Homo sapiens: one gene and its partners. The protein of the gene in region 4 purifies or fractionates together with the protein of the main gene of each other region. This does not show direct contact. Each region holds a gene or a part of one and is shown on either strand. Other genes may lie near its edges.

What was found.
Region 1: the proteins of XXYLT1 (region 4) and PDCD2L purify together in Homo sapiens (co-immunoprecipitation; 2 studies listed by BioGRID and IntAct, with this or other methods). This does not show direct contact.
Region 2: the proteins of XXYLT1 (region 4) and SLC39A11 purify together in Homo sapiens (co-immunoprecipitation; one large-scale study listed by IntAct). This does not show direct contact.
Region 3: the proteins of XXYLT1 (region 4) and PRMT3 purify together in Homo sapiens (affinity purification with mass spectrometry; one large-scale study listed by BioGRID and IntAct). This does not show direct contact.

Annotation. Positions count from the first base shown.
Region 1 is NC_000019.10:34,410,834-34,414,405, forward strand, and holds part of PDCD2L (programmed cell death protein 2-like), read left to right. Parts: intron 1-2,903; coding exon 2,904-3,014; intron 3,015-3,572. UniProt on the Homo sapiens protein: Over-expression suppresses AP1, CREB, NFAT, and NF-kB transcriptional activation, and delays cell cycle progression at S phase.
Region 2 is NC_000017.11:73,086,145-73,089,716, forward strand, and holds part of SLC39A11 (zinc transporter ZIP11), read right to left. Parts: exon of another isoform or gene 3,570-3,572; intron 2,632-3,569; 5' UTR 2,621-2,631; coding exon 2,513-2,620; intron 1-2,512. UniProt on the Homo sapiens protein: Zinc importer that regulates cytosolic zinc concentrations either via zinc influx from the extracellular compartment or efflux from intracellular organelles such as Golgi apparatus. May transport copper ions as well.
Region 3 is NC_000011.10:20,506,173-20,509,744, reverse strand, and holds the end of PRMT3 (protein arginine N-methyltransferase 3), read right to left. Parts: intron 1,442-3,572; coding exon 1,332-1,441; 3' UTR 407-1,331; downstream 1-406. UniProt on the Homo sapiens protein: Protein-arginine N-methyltransferase that catalyzes both the monomethylation and asymmetric dimethylation of the guanidino nitrogens of arginine residues in target proteins, and therefore falls into the group of type I methyltransferases.
Region 4 is NC_000003.12:195,069,918-195,072,177, forward strand, and holds part of XXYLT1 (xyloside xylosyltransferase 1), read right to left. Parts: intron 195-2,260; coding exon 1-194. UniProt on the Homo sapiens protein: Alpha-1,3-xylosyltransferase, which elongates the O-linked xylose-glucose disaccharide attached to EGF-like repeats in the extracellular domain of target proteins by catalyzing the addition of the second xylose.

The DNA of each region.
Region 1 (3,572 bases), on a different chromosome or scaffold from region 4:
GAGTGCAGTGGTGCGATCTCGGCTCACTGCAACCTCCCCTTCCTGGGTTCAAGCAATTTTCTTGCCTCAGCCTCCCAAGTAGCTGGGACTACAGGTGCGCGCCACCACACCCAGCTAATTTTTGTATTATTAGTAGAGACGGGGTTTCACCATGTTGACCAGGATAGTCTCAATCTCTTGACCTCGTGATCCACCTGCCTTGGCCTCCCAAAGTGCCGGGATTACAGGTGTGAGCCACCGCGCCCGGCAGGATTTTTTATTTTTTAATTTCTTAAGTTTTTATGTATTTGCTTATTTTTGGTGGGTTTCTTCAGACTAGAGTATTCTTCTTTTTTTTTTTTTTTTTTTTAGAGATGGGATCTTGCTTTGTTTCCCAGGCTGAACTGCAGTGGTGTGGTGTGGTTATGGCCTTTTTTTTTTTTTTTTGAGACAGTCTTGCTCTGTTGCCCAGGTTGGAGTGCAGTGGCACGTTCTCGGCTCACTGCAACCTCTCCCTCGCCGGCTTAAGCAGCTCTCATGTCTCAGCCTCCCGAGTAGCTGGGACCATAGGCGTGCGCCACTTCACCCAGCTAATTTTTGTATTTTCTTTTTAGTAGAGATGGGCTTTTGCCATACTGGCCGGGCTCTTCTTGGAGTTCTGGCCCCACGTGATCCGCCCACCTCGACCTCCCAAAGTGCCGGGATTACAGGTATTAGCCACCACGCCCAGCCTGCTCATGGTTTACTGCAGCCTCAAACTCCTGGCCTCAGGGGATCCTCTGGCCTCAGCTTTCCCCATAGCTGGGACTACAGGTGTGTGCCACCAAACTCAGCTAATTAAAAAAATTTTTGGTTTTTTTGAGACAGAGTCTCACTTTGTCACCCAGGCTGGAGTACAGCGGTGTGATAATGGCTCACTGCAACCTCCAGCTCCCAGTTTCAAATGATCCTCCTGCCTCAGCCTCCCAAGTAGCTGGGATTACAGGTACCCGCCACCACACCCGGTTAATTTTTGTATTTTTAGTAGAGATGGGGCTTCACCATGTTGGCCAGGCTGGTCTCAAACTCCTAACCTCAAGTGACCCACTCTCCTTGGCCTCCCAAAGTGCTGGGATTGCAGGCGTGAGCCACCGCACCCAGATGAAAAATACATATATATATATATATATATAAAATAAATAATAAAATATATATATTAAAAAATATATATGAAAATATATATATTTGAGACAGAATCTCGCTCTGTTGCCAGGCTGGAGTACAGTGGCTCAATCTCAGCTCATTGCAACCTCCACCTCCCAGGTTTAAGCAATTCTCCTCCCTTAGCCTCCTGAATAGCTAGGATTACAAGTGCATACCACCATGCCCAGCTAATTTTTGTATTTTTAGTAGAGACAGGGTTTCACCATGTTGGCCAGGATGGTCTCGATCTTTTGACCTCGTGATCCACCTGCCTCGGCCTTCCAAAGTGTTGAGATTACAGGTGTGAGCCACTGTGCCCTGCGACTTTTTAAATTGTAAATAATTACTCAAGAGTTGAAAATGGCTTGGGAGAAGGGTTGGGCAGGGAACTGCAGAGCTACATGTACACAATTTAAATATCAAAAATATTTACTTGACAGTTTTTGGCTGAGTGCGGTGGCTCACTCCTATAATTCCAGCACTTTGGGAGGCCGAGATGGATCACTTGAGGTCAGGAGTTGGAGACCAGCCTGGCCGACGTGGTGAAACCTTGTCTTTACTAAAAATACAAAAATTAGCTGGACGTGTTGGCGCACACTTGCAATCCCAGCTACTCAGGAGGCTGAGGCAGGAGAATTGCTTGAACCCAGGAGGTGGAGGTTGCAGTGAGCCAAGATTGCACCATTGCACTCCAGCCTGGGTGACAGAGGGAGACTCCCTCTCAAAAAAAAAAAAAAATTACTTGACAGTTTTACAGTTTTTTAACTTTGACAGTTTTTTTTTTTTTTTCTTTTTGAGACAGGGTCTCACACTGTTATCCAGGCTGTAGTGCAATGGTGTGCTCACGGCTCACCACAGCCTTGCCTCTGGAATAGCCGGGACCACAGGTGCATGCCACCATGCCCAGCTAATTTTTGTATTTTTTTGTAGAGACAAGGTTCTGCCAGATTGCCCAGGATGGTTTTGAACTCCTGAGCTCAAGTGATCCGCCTGCCTCGGCCTCCCAAAGTGCTGGGATTACAGGCGTGAGCCCACTGCACTGGCCTGAGAAATTTTTTTTTGAGACGGAGTTTCACTCTTCTTGCCCAGGCTGGAGTGCAATAGCGCAATCTTGGCTCACTGCAACCTCCATCTCCTGGGTTCAAGTGATTCTCCTGCCTCAGCCTCCCAAGGAGCTGGGATTACAGGCGCCCGCCACCACGCCTGGCTAATTTTTTGTACTTTTATTAGAGATGGGGTTTCAAGATGTTGGCCAGGCTGGTTTCAAGCTCCTGACCTCAGGTGATCTGCTCACCTCGGCCTCCCAAAGTGCTGGGATTAAAGGCGTGATTGATTTTTTTTTTTTTTTTTTTTTTGAGATGGAGTCTCATTCTGTCACCAGGCTGGAGTGTAGTGGCATGGCACGATCTCGGCTCACTGCAACTTCCGCTTCCCGGGTTCAAGCGATTTCCTCTGCCTCAGCCTGCTGAGTAGCTGGGACTATAGGCGCAAGCCACCATGCCCAGCCAATTTTTTGCATTTTTTAGTAGAGATGGGGTTTCACCATGTTGGCCAGGATGGTCTCGATCTCCTGACCTTGTGATCTGCCTGCCTCGGCCTCCCAAAGTGCTGAGATTACAGGCGTGAGCCACTGCGCCTGCCCTGATAAAATTTTTTAAAAGAAAATTATCTTGTTTTGTCTTGCAAATGCTGTAATTTTCTGGATATAGACATTCAAAAGTGTTTTCTGCTTCTGTTTTTAGCCTTCCTAATGATGGTGATGAAAAATATGAGAAGACCATAATTAAAAGTGGAGATCAGACGTTTTACAAATTCATGAAGCGAATTGCTGCTTGTCAGGAGCAGATTTTGAGGTAAAAAAAGGCACAGTTCCTTTTATTGTTTTCCTTGATTATAAAGGAATACATATTAGTTTGGAAAACACAGGAAAATATGAGAAAAGCAAAACCTACAGTATTCCCCAAACCAAGAGAGAACCTAATACCTGCTTTATAGGACCTAATACCTACTTTATAGGATGTGTAGGAGGATTCAGTAAGGTAAAGTGCACTCACTTGTCTAACAAATACTTACGAAGTCTATTCTGCATGCCAGTTGCTGGTATTTGTAGGTGCTGCAGATATAGCAAGAAACGGCACAGATGAAGTCCATGTTCTCATAGCCTTTATTATTATTATTATTTAATTTTTTTTTTTCTTTGAGAGGGAGTCGCGCTCTGTCGCCCAGGCTGGAGTGTAGTGGCGTGATCTTGGCTCAATGCAACCTCCACCTCTTGGGTTTAAGCCATTCTCCTGCCTCAGCCTCCCAAGTAGCTGGGATTACAGGTGCCCGCCACCCTGCCCAGCTGATTTTTTTGTATTTTAGTAGAGATGGGGTTTCACCATGTTGGCCAGACTGGTCTCGAACTGCTG
Region 2 (3,572 bases), on a different chromosome or scaffold from region 4:
AAGGCTCCTGATTGGAAGGGGCTGTGAGGTGAGGAGCTGGTACTGTTTTGTTTCTTGATCTGGGCTCTAGTTTCATGAGCACTTGTGGAAAGTTATCAAGCTGCATACTTATATTAGGTTGGTGCAAACCTAATAAAATGCACCAGCCTAATAAAATGTGCATTTTTCCATAAGCATCTTCTATTTCAATACAGATTTTTTTTTTTTTGCTATCTATCCATAGATGAATGGATAAACAAAATGTGGTATGTACATACAATGGAATAGTCTTCAGCCTTAAAAACAAAAGAAATTCTGGCACATGTTATAACGTGGATGAGCTCTATGGACATTCTTTGAAGTGAAAGAAGCCATGTGGTCTACAGAACTTTTCACCTTACAAAATTAAAACTCAGCTGGGCATGATGGTGCACACCTGTAATCCCAGCAGTCTGGGAGGCCGAGGCAGGCAGATCACTTGAGGTCAGGAGCTCAAAACCTGCCTGAGCAACATAGTGAAACCCCATCTCCACTACAAATACAAAAATTAGCTGGGCATGGTGGTGCACACCCGTAGTCTCAGCTACTTGGGAGGCTGAGGTGGGACGATCACTTGAACCCAGGAGGTGGAGGTTGCAGTGAGCTGAGATCATGCCACTGAACCCCAGCCTGGGTGACAGGGCAAGACTCTAGCTCAAAAAAAATAAAAAATAAATAAATAAAACAGCCTGGCCGGATGGGGTTACCAGCGAAACCCCGTCTCTACTAAAACTACAAAAAAAATTAGCTGAGCGTGGTGGTGTATGCATGTAATCCCAGCTACTCGGGAGGCTGAGGCAGAAGAACCTTTTGAACCTGGGAAGCAGAGGTTGCAGTGAACCAAGATCACGCCACTGCACTCCAGCCTGGGTGACAGAGCAAGACTCTGTCTAAAGAAAAAAAAAACAAACAAAAACAAAAAACCCTGAAACTCTGTACTCATTCAAGAATAACTTATTTCTGCCCTCCTCTGTGGCCCCTGGCAATCACCATTCTACAATGTGTCTCTGTGAATTTGACTTATCTTGGCATCTTATATACCTAGGTTCCAGATAAACCATGTTTCTGGATTGTGTGTTTTCTGATTTCCAGTCTCCAACCCATCAGCTCCCGGGGGCAGTGCAGCGCAGCAAGGGAGGTCGGGATTTTATTGTTGAAATCAAGGCCTGCTGTACTGGTCTCTAACACAAGAGTGCCTGACTTGTGAACTTCCTAAAGGTGTTTTCATTTCCAGATCTCCCTCACAACATGTTGAACTAGATCTTAAGTCACTTATTCATTTGCCGTTTCTACAATGTCTCAGGCTACCGAGGTGATCGATGCAGGGATTGTGCATTCATCAAGATACCCATGGATGGCTCCAGGGCTGCGGACTGAGGGTGATCTGGGTTGGAGAAAAGAATGCAATTTCAGGTATATGAGGTGAGTGTGGGTTGTGCAGAGGTGTGGGGAGGGCATATGGGTATGGGTATGTGTGCAAGTGTGGGTATGTGGGACTATAGGTAGAGCGTGTAGAAGGGGTGTAAGGATGGGGTTGTGGGAGGAGGGAGAGATAGGCTGTGGGGCCATGACAGTGAGTGAGGGCACTGGGAGTAGGATACAAGGAAGATGTAGGAGAAAGAAGTAAGAGTTTGCAGGGGGCCAGGGACATGGGTCTGTCTATATTCATCCCAAGGGGAAAGGAAACAACCTGGAGATGGGTTGAAAAAAAAGGGAACAGATGCCCCTTCTTCTCCCAAGGTCTTTCCAACCATCCCACCCAACTCAAGTCCACAGGGGAGGACAGTTACACCTGAAATCTAATGTTCTTCGGTCACGCATAGTACCACTTGCTCCAGGCCTGAAAGAAATTACATGGCAGGCCAGGCACGGTGGCTCACACCTGCAATCCCAGCACTGTGGGAGGCCGAGGTGGGTGGATCATCTGAGGTCAGGAGTTTGAGACCAGTGGTGAAATCCCACCTCTACTAAAAATACAAAAATTAGCCAGGCGTGGTGGCACATGCCTGTAATCCCAGCTACTCTGGAGGCTGAGGCAGGAGAATCACTTGAACCCGGGAGGTGGAGGTTGCAGAGAGCTGAGATCCTGCCACTGCACGCCAGGCTGGGCAACAGAGCAAGATTCTGTCTCAAAAAAAAAAAGAAAAAAGAAAAAAGAAAAGAAATTACATGGCAGGTAGAAATTAGGCAGCGGGCTAACGAAGCCTCAATAACTGGGCTTCTCACTTCCTATTCCCTTCAAGTCAGGCTGTCAAGGGTCAAGAGGGGAGATGATGGTGCATGAAGGTGTCTACAGCAAGCAGACATCTGTTCTCCCGGCCTGGCAGGGAGAAGGTGAGAAAATAAGAAGACAGCGAACAAACCCCAGTACACAATGCCTGGGGGTGTGGCCAGGGGCACTGAAAAGTCTACAAACCTGCTCCATGGAGTGGGACAGTGCCCCTTTACCAACGGGCTCCCCACCAACATCCAGAACCAAAGCAAGGCAACTCACCTGTCCACTAGAGAATACGAACACGAGAGCTGCCCCAGCTGCTGTCATCCCCCAGGTGAAGAAGGTCCCCAGCAAGGCCTGGAACACAGAGCTGTGGCCTTGGAGCATGCTGGATACAGCTGTGCAAGAGGAGCGAGAGGGTCAGCCACCGGTGGTCCGTTTCAGTGACAGGCGCATATTCTGACGGGTCCTAACACCCTGTGTGGGAGCTGGCCTCCCTCCAGGTTGACCGTATGCACCCTTCCACCACGCCATCTGTGTCCCTCAGCCACCCAGCACACAGGTCAGGCTTCTCTATCCAGGTCCCCCAGGAACTGGAAATCGTCTTAATCTGAAAGAAGGCACAGGGAGATGCCAGGGGAATCCACAAAAAAGGCTGCAACATTGAAAAGTGGTTTCAAAGAGAAGCACAAAGAATGTGGTTTATTCCAGAAGAAGGGGGCATAGGAGGGTCTGATGCAGCCTCCCCCACATAATCTGCCTCTTCTACCGTCTCTTGCCCACCATCCGCACTCAGCCTCCACCAAAGACAGGTGACTAGCTCAGGTGATGTCAACACGCTTCCAATCTTAATCCCCATCACATCTGCAACAGCGCACCTGCCCAGCCAAAGGGTAAACTCCACCAACCAACTTTTGATACCCACCAACCCCCGACTCTCCAATCCCGTTCTCCATCATGCCTGCACGAGCACCCAACTCCAGCTCAACTGAATTATTTATGGCACCTTCCACAAGCCCCAGACAATCCTGCCTCCAAGTCCCTGTTCATGCAGTTCCCTCCTGGAATACCTTCCTTGCACATTTCCAGCCATCAGAACCCGGAGCACCCTCTGCAGCCCACATAATGCCAACCTCACGACCAAGGCTTTTCTGGCCTTCCCCAGCCCTGTCCTAGCATGCAGCTTTGGTCCTCTCTCAGTGTGGCTTTGCCTCCATCTTTTACAGCCTTAGTTGCTTGAGGACGGGGACGGTGCTTTTTCACATTTGGCACCCCTGTAAAATAGGGCTTTGTAACCCCTGAAAAATATGTGCTGGATGGAAAAGGGCCAGCTTACCTG
Region 3 (3,572 bases), on a different chromosome or scaffold from region 4:
CCTTGAACTCCTGACCTTAAACAATCCTCCTGCCTTGGCCTCCCAAAGTGTTGTGATTATAAGCATGAACCACCATGCCTGGCCCTGTTTTTTACTTTTAATTAATTAACTTTTCTAGAGACAGAGTCTTTCTCTGTTACCCAGGCTGGAGTGCAGTGGCACGATCTTGACTTACTGTAGTTTCCAACTCCTGGACTCAAGCAATCTGCTCACCACAGCTTCCCAAGTAGTTAGGACTACAGGCATGCACCACTATGCCTGGCTAATTTTTTTAAAAGAATTTTTTGTACAGACCTGTGTTGCCTAGGCTGCTCTCAAACTCCTGGGCTTAAGTGATCTTCCTGCCTTGGCCTCCCAAATGCTGGGATTATAGGTATGAGCTACCATACCCTGTTGAAATATTTTATAATGTTGTTTGATATATTTTATTGAAAACTTTTATAATATCAATATTTTTAAAATATTTTATAAGTTGATACATTTTATTAAAATTTTATTCTACATTTCAAATTGAATCAGTAATTGTAAATGACAACTTTATAGACTGCTTAGTAACAGTTACATGTTTAACCTTTGCACATAAATCTGGTTTGAAAAAGATAATACGTTAGTAAATAAGTACATATTTATCCCAATCTTTAAAAACTTTCATGAAACCTAGGATAAATGTATTGAAATTAGATTTCCTGGGCAGTACTAGAAATCTATAAGGCTAAGGAATAGTCACAAAGAGGGAAGAAACTACAAAATGAGAACCCTAAGTATGCTAGATAATCAACTAGGCTGTCTGCATATATGATTTGTATATGAAGGCTGAAGCTCTTTTCCATATTTTAGTTTTTTTATACAAATCTTTATTACATCCTGATTTTCTAGCAAATACAATTAAAAACTCCTCCTCAGAGGAGTCCATAATAAAATGTGTAGTACCTGTGTTACTAGTTTAATAAAATATCCAAATAACTAACCAATTTGTTTAAAATTTATAGTAAGAAACTTATTAAAAACAAAAGACTATCTCTCTTCCAAATATAGGCCAATGTAAATGATTTTCAATATAGATAAACTCAATGTGGGAGTTACATTTGGTTAAATCTGGTGGAGCAAACGTCTAAGAAAATGATTACGTGGCAGACCATGAGGATCAGCTGATTCTCTTCCTCAGCTGAACTATGTCAGATTCCCACAATGAGAACTTCTCTCTTATTGAGGAGGCTCATTAGGAAAGGGTCCATCATCCATCCATCTGCTCACATAAAACCAGCTCCCTCCTGCTGACCCACTCTACCCCCACATTAAAAACTACAAGGTAGTGTGCTTTTATGGCTGTTTCACTGGAGACCATAAGTTTGAGTTGAATTATTCAACGTGAGGGTCACGGTGAGAGAACGTGGATCTTTCTTATTCTTGTGAACTGTGACCTTTCCTTTCAAGGCTTCACCTGTAAAACAAAGGCAAAAATTGTTAAGAATTCAAGGAATACAGTGTAGCAGAAAAGTAAACAATGTATAACTAGCACTTCTTTTTATTGTGATGTTTTCCCACTTTTTAAACTTTATTTAAGGTTAATATTCTTTTTTTTTTTTTTTTTTTTTAAGATGGAGTCTCACTCTGTCACCCAGGCTGGAGTGCGGTGGTGTGATCTCAGCTCACTGCATTCTCCCAGGCTGGAGTGCACTGGTGCAAGCTTGGCTCACTGCAACCTCCGCCTCCTGGGTTCAAGAGATTTTCCTGCCTCAGCTTCCCGAATAGCTGGGACTACAGGCGCATGCCACCATGCCCAGCTAATTTTTTATTTTTAGTAGAGATGGGGTTTCACCATGTTGGCCAGGCTGGTCTCGAACTCCTGACCTCAGGTGATCCACCCGCCTCAGCCTCCCAAAGTGCTGGGAATACAGGAATGAGCCATTGTGCCCAGCCAATATTCATTTTTTAGAGCAGCATTATGTTTCATTAATTTTTTTTTTAAGACAGTCTCTCTCTGTTGCCCAGGCTAGAGTGCAGTGGTACAATCCCAGTTGACTGCAACCTCTGCCTCCCGTGTTCAAGTGATTTCTCCTGCCTCAGCCTCCCAAGTAGCTGGGATTACAGGCATGCGCCACCATGACCTGCTAATTTTGTATTTTTAGTAGAGACAAGGTTTTGCCATTTTGGCCAGGCTGGTCTAGAACTCCTGACCTCAGGTGATGCGCTCACCTACCTCAGCCTCCCAAAGTGCTGGGATTACAGGCGTAAGCCACTGCGCCCAGCCCTGTTTCATTAATTTTTGAATGAAGCGAGAACTAACTACATACCACAGTGTCAAATCCTTGTGAAAGTGAGTAAAACTATTGTGGTCATAAAGGGTCAATGGAAGCATTTTACTGAACTTCTAAATATGAGGCCCTATGGTGGGTTCTGGGCATCTAGAAAAAAGATATGGTCCCTGCCCTCAAAGAGTTTGTGATCAGGGTGAAGAAAAAAGCTATACTAACAATTACACAATAGGCATGTGTCTAAAGTGTGCTGGAGGTGAGCACTGGGGATGGTTGGAAGGCAGTTAAAGGCAAGGTTTCACAAGAATTAATGAATTACCCAATGCCAGGGCTGAAGTCATGGAGAACCAGGCTTAAGGGATGTACATGTAATGGTATTTAAGGAAAACACATACACAGAACCTTCAGGAATGGCATTTTGAGGAACTGAAAATTATAGCTGGGAAAATGTAGAGGCACATGACAAAGCCATTGGCCATTGATGCACTGGTGCTGTAAAAGGGAAACAATGTACCCATGTGAAACAGTGAACACACAAAAATTACTTACCTGTGCAAAGGCTGATTTCCTAAATTCTGTAGGTTCCAAATTTTTATCTATGTACTTTTCTAATTATAAATACTTCTCATTTAATTTTTCATTTATTTTAAAGAGCTGTTTAAAAAGTAACAAATTGCTAAGTTGTAGTTGATCACCATTCTTTGCTTAAATAATATTAAGATAACACCAAACAGTGTCAGGAATAGCTTTAGCATCTGCATGGACACAATGAGGCTCCATATAATGACCAAGGAAATCTACATAAAACTATTGAAGTACTGAATGAATATCGTATTTAAAAAAATACAAATTCCCCATATTCAAGGAAAATTATCTGAATGCTTTTCAAGATGGTAGTGAAATAACACAAGTAAAACATAACCACCTGTTATATTTATTTTCAGAATATAAAGATTCCATTACTGATACCTTCTCTACATCTTTGCAAAAAAGGTGAGACTCACAGTTTAACACATAATTAAGGAGTTAAATAATAGAAGAAATAATGTGGCCCAAGGTGCAATCCATTCAACAAAATATAACAATTTTTGTGTACGTATATATGTTAATGTGTATATTTGGCTTTAGCTTTTATATCTGACCTATTCCTCTATATTAAGAAAATGATATAAAACTATCTCATATGACATGTTCACCAATAGTGGACATAATAAAGATTACCAGTCAGATAGTTCTACAAACTTTATGGAGTTCAGGTTAATCATTAGATAATTTATGCTTATATTTATTCAACACTTACTTTGTGCTAGGCTCTAC
Region 4 (2,260 bases):
GGCCGCGGAAGTGGTACTTGTCGGCCAGCTGCTGCACCTGCGCCGGCTCCAGCAGGCGGCTGTAGAGCGGGGACTGGCGCATGGCCTCCAGGTTCAGCAACATCACCCCGCTGTTGAAGCCCGGCAGCCCCTCGGGGGGCGGGCCCCCAACCCGGGTCTGGGGGTTCTCATGGCGGAACTGCCAGAATGTGTGCCTGTGGAGAGAGAGGACAGAGTTAGTCCGGTGTGCAGGGGAACCAGCCTGCCGGCCTGCTGCCCTGGGTCTTCACAGCCAGCCTGCATGCAAACACTGCCACATTCCGGGGTGCAGAATCCGCATCACTACACCAGCAAGTGGCAGAGCTGGGACCTGAACCCAGGGCTCTGGACCCCAAGCCTCAGATTCTTTCTACCATCCTCTGCTACGTCCTCACCACAGCCAACATTGATATTATTGACTGAGGATGTACCAGGCGCCATACTAGACCGGCTTACTTACTCCCCACACAACCCCAGGGGATGGGTGCTCTGAGATGATACATCATTTCACAGCCAAGAAAACGGACGCACAGAGAGGTCAAGGTATTTGCCCAAAGTCACACACCTAGTAAGCAGCAGACGCAGGGACTAAACCCAGACAATCTGGCTCCAAAGTCCACATTCTTAAGATAGCAGCAATCTAGGTAGAACTTTCCACCCCCTTGTCTTCACCTGTGATCTTGAAAAGGAGAAGGGAGAGAGAAGCAGGGGACACAATCCTGAACAGAGATCTCATCAAGACGCAGGCAGCTGAACCCTGACTGGAACAGAACTGTTTTCTGCTTTAGAACAAGGCTCATTCATTGAGCCCCAAGCCTGGCACTTCAGAAAGGCTGGGCAGGGGCTGGGGGCCTGCGACAGCCCAGGGCACACCATGGGTTAGGGTGAAAGACAGCTGTAGAAGAGCCATGTAGGATGATGTCTACTTTAGAAGGAATGTCACTTCAAGTTCAATTTTTCTCTCAGCAGATTTAGAAACCAATCTAGGTTCATAGTTCAGGGAGTGTTAGCCTCTTCTAGGTCCTCTACCCAAATGCTTCCATCTGGAGGGGAGAAGAAAGACCTAGACACCTCCCTGTGAGGGCCAGGGTTAAAGCGCTGCACTGTCCTCCAGCCTCTTTAATAGCTAAGCCTCATGTGTGCTGCAAGGGGTGTGCAGGTGGAGGGGAGAGGCGTCCAAGCCCACACCCACAGAGGAGGGGCCACAGCAATCGTGCCGGTGACCTGGAGGAAGGAGGACCATCAGGAGGCCCACTGTGGCAGGGACAGGCGTGGGAGTGGGTCCTCACGGGGAGGACACATCGTGGCAGAACCAGCTCTGCCTCCCAGCCTGGAGATGCTGCCCCACCGGCCCCCGCAGAGAGACTTCCCCACCCAAACCCAGGATAGGATCTGCGTGATGAAGCAGAAGGTACGGGGGAATAAAACCGGAGACCCTGCCCAGGGTGGCCCTGAGGGGCCACTTCTCAGCACCAGCACATTGCTCCGCTTCTGGGAACGGAGGAACCTTCCTCAAGGTCTCACGTATCACAGAGAGTGCCAAGAGTCTGATCCTGGCGAGGGGGAAGCATTCCCTCCGGACATTCTTACAGGGGAATCCACAGGGCCACTGCTTGTGTTCTGCTGTGAGTGGAACCGAGCTCTGGTGCCTGCCTGGTGGTAACAGCCTTGGCAAAAATAAGCTTCTCAAGCAAACTGAGATGCTGTCATCTTGCCACAAAAGTCTGCGGTGATAGGGTCACACAGGGTTGGGATGCAGTGTGGCAGCTGTGTGTTCATTTTACCCTATTTCTTCCCAGTGGTTCATTTCAGGACCAGGTTATAAAGCAGCTAAAATTCTACCAGGCAGACCAGGGCACCATGACATCAGAGAGGAGGGACCCTCTGACTAGGGGCAGTGGGTGCTTTACCACCAAGGAGCTCGATTTACCCTTCGAGGGGTGGGAACGAAGCGTTTACCGAGGTGGAGCAGAGACCCAAAGGGAGGGAGGGCACGAGAAGCAGGGAGGCAGGACCTGTGGCCGCCGAGGTCCTGGACTACCTCATGCTCCACGGAGCCCACGTGTCCATCTTTCTTTACTGTCCAGAGTACCCAGGAGGGAGAGGACTCACCCAGCTGGGGGTGTGGCCCGTGCAGTCTCTTGTGTCCACAGGACCTCACAGGGCACCAGCACAGCAGGGCCACAGGAAAGATCACAGGGCTGATGAGGAACGATGGAAAGGCAGGCGTGGGGTGGACCGT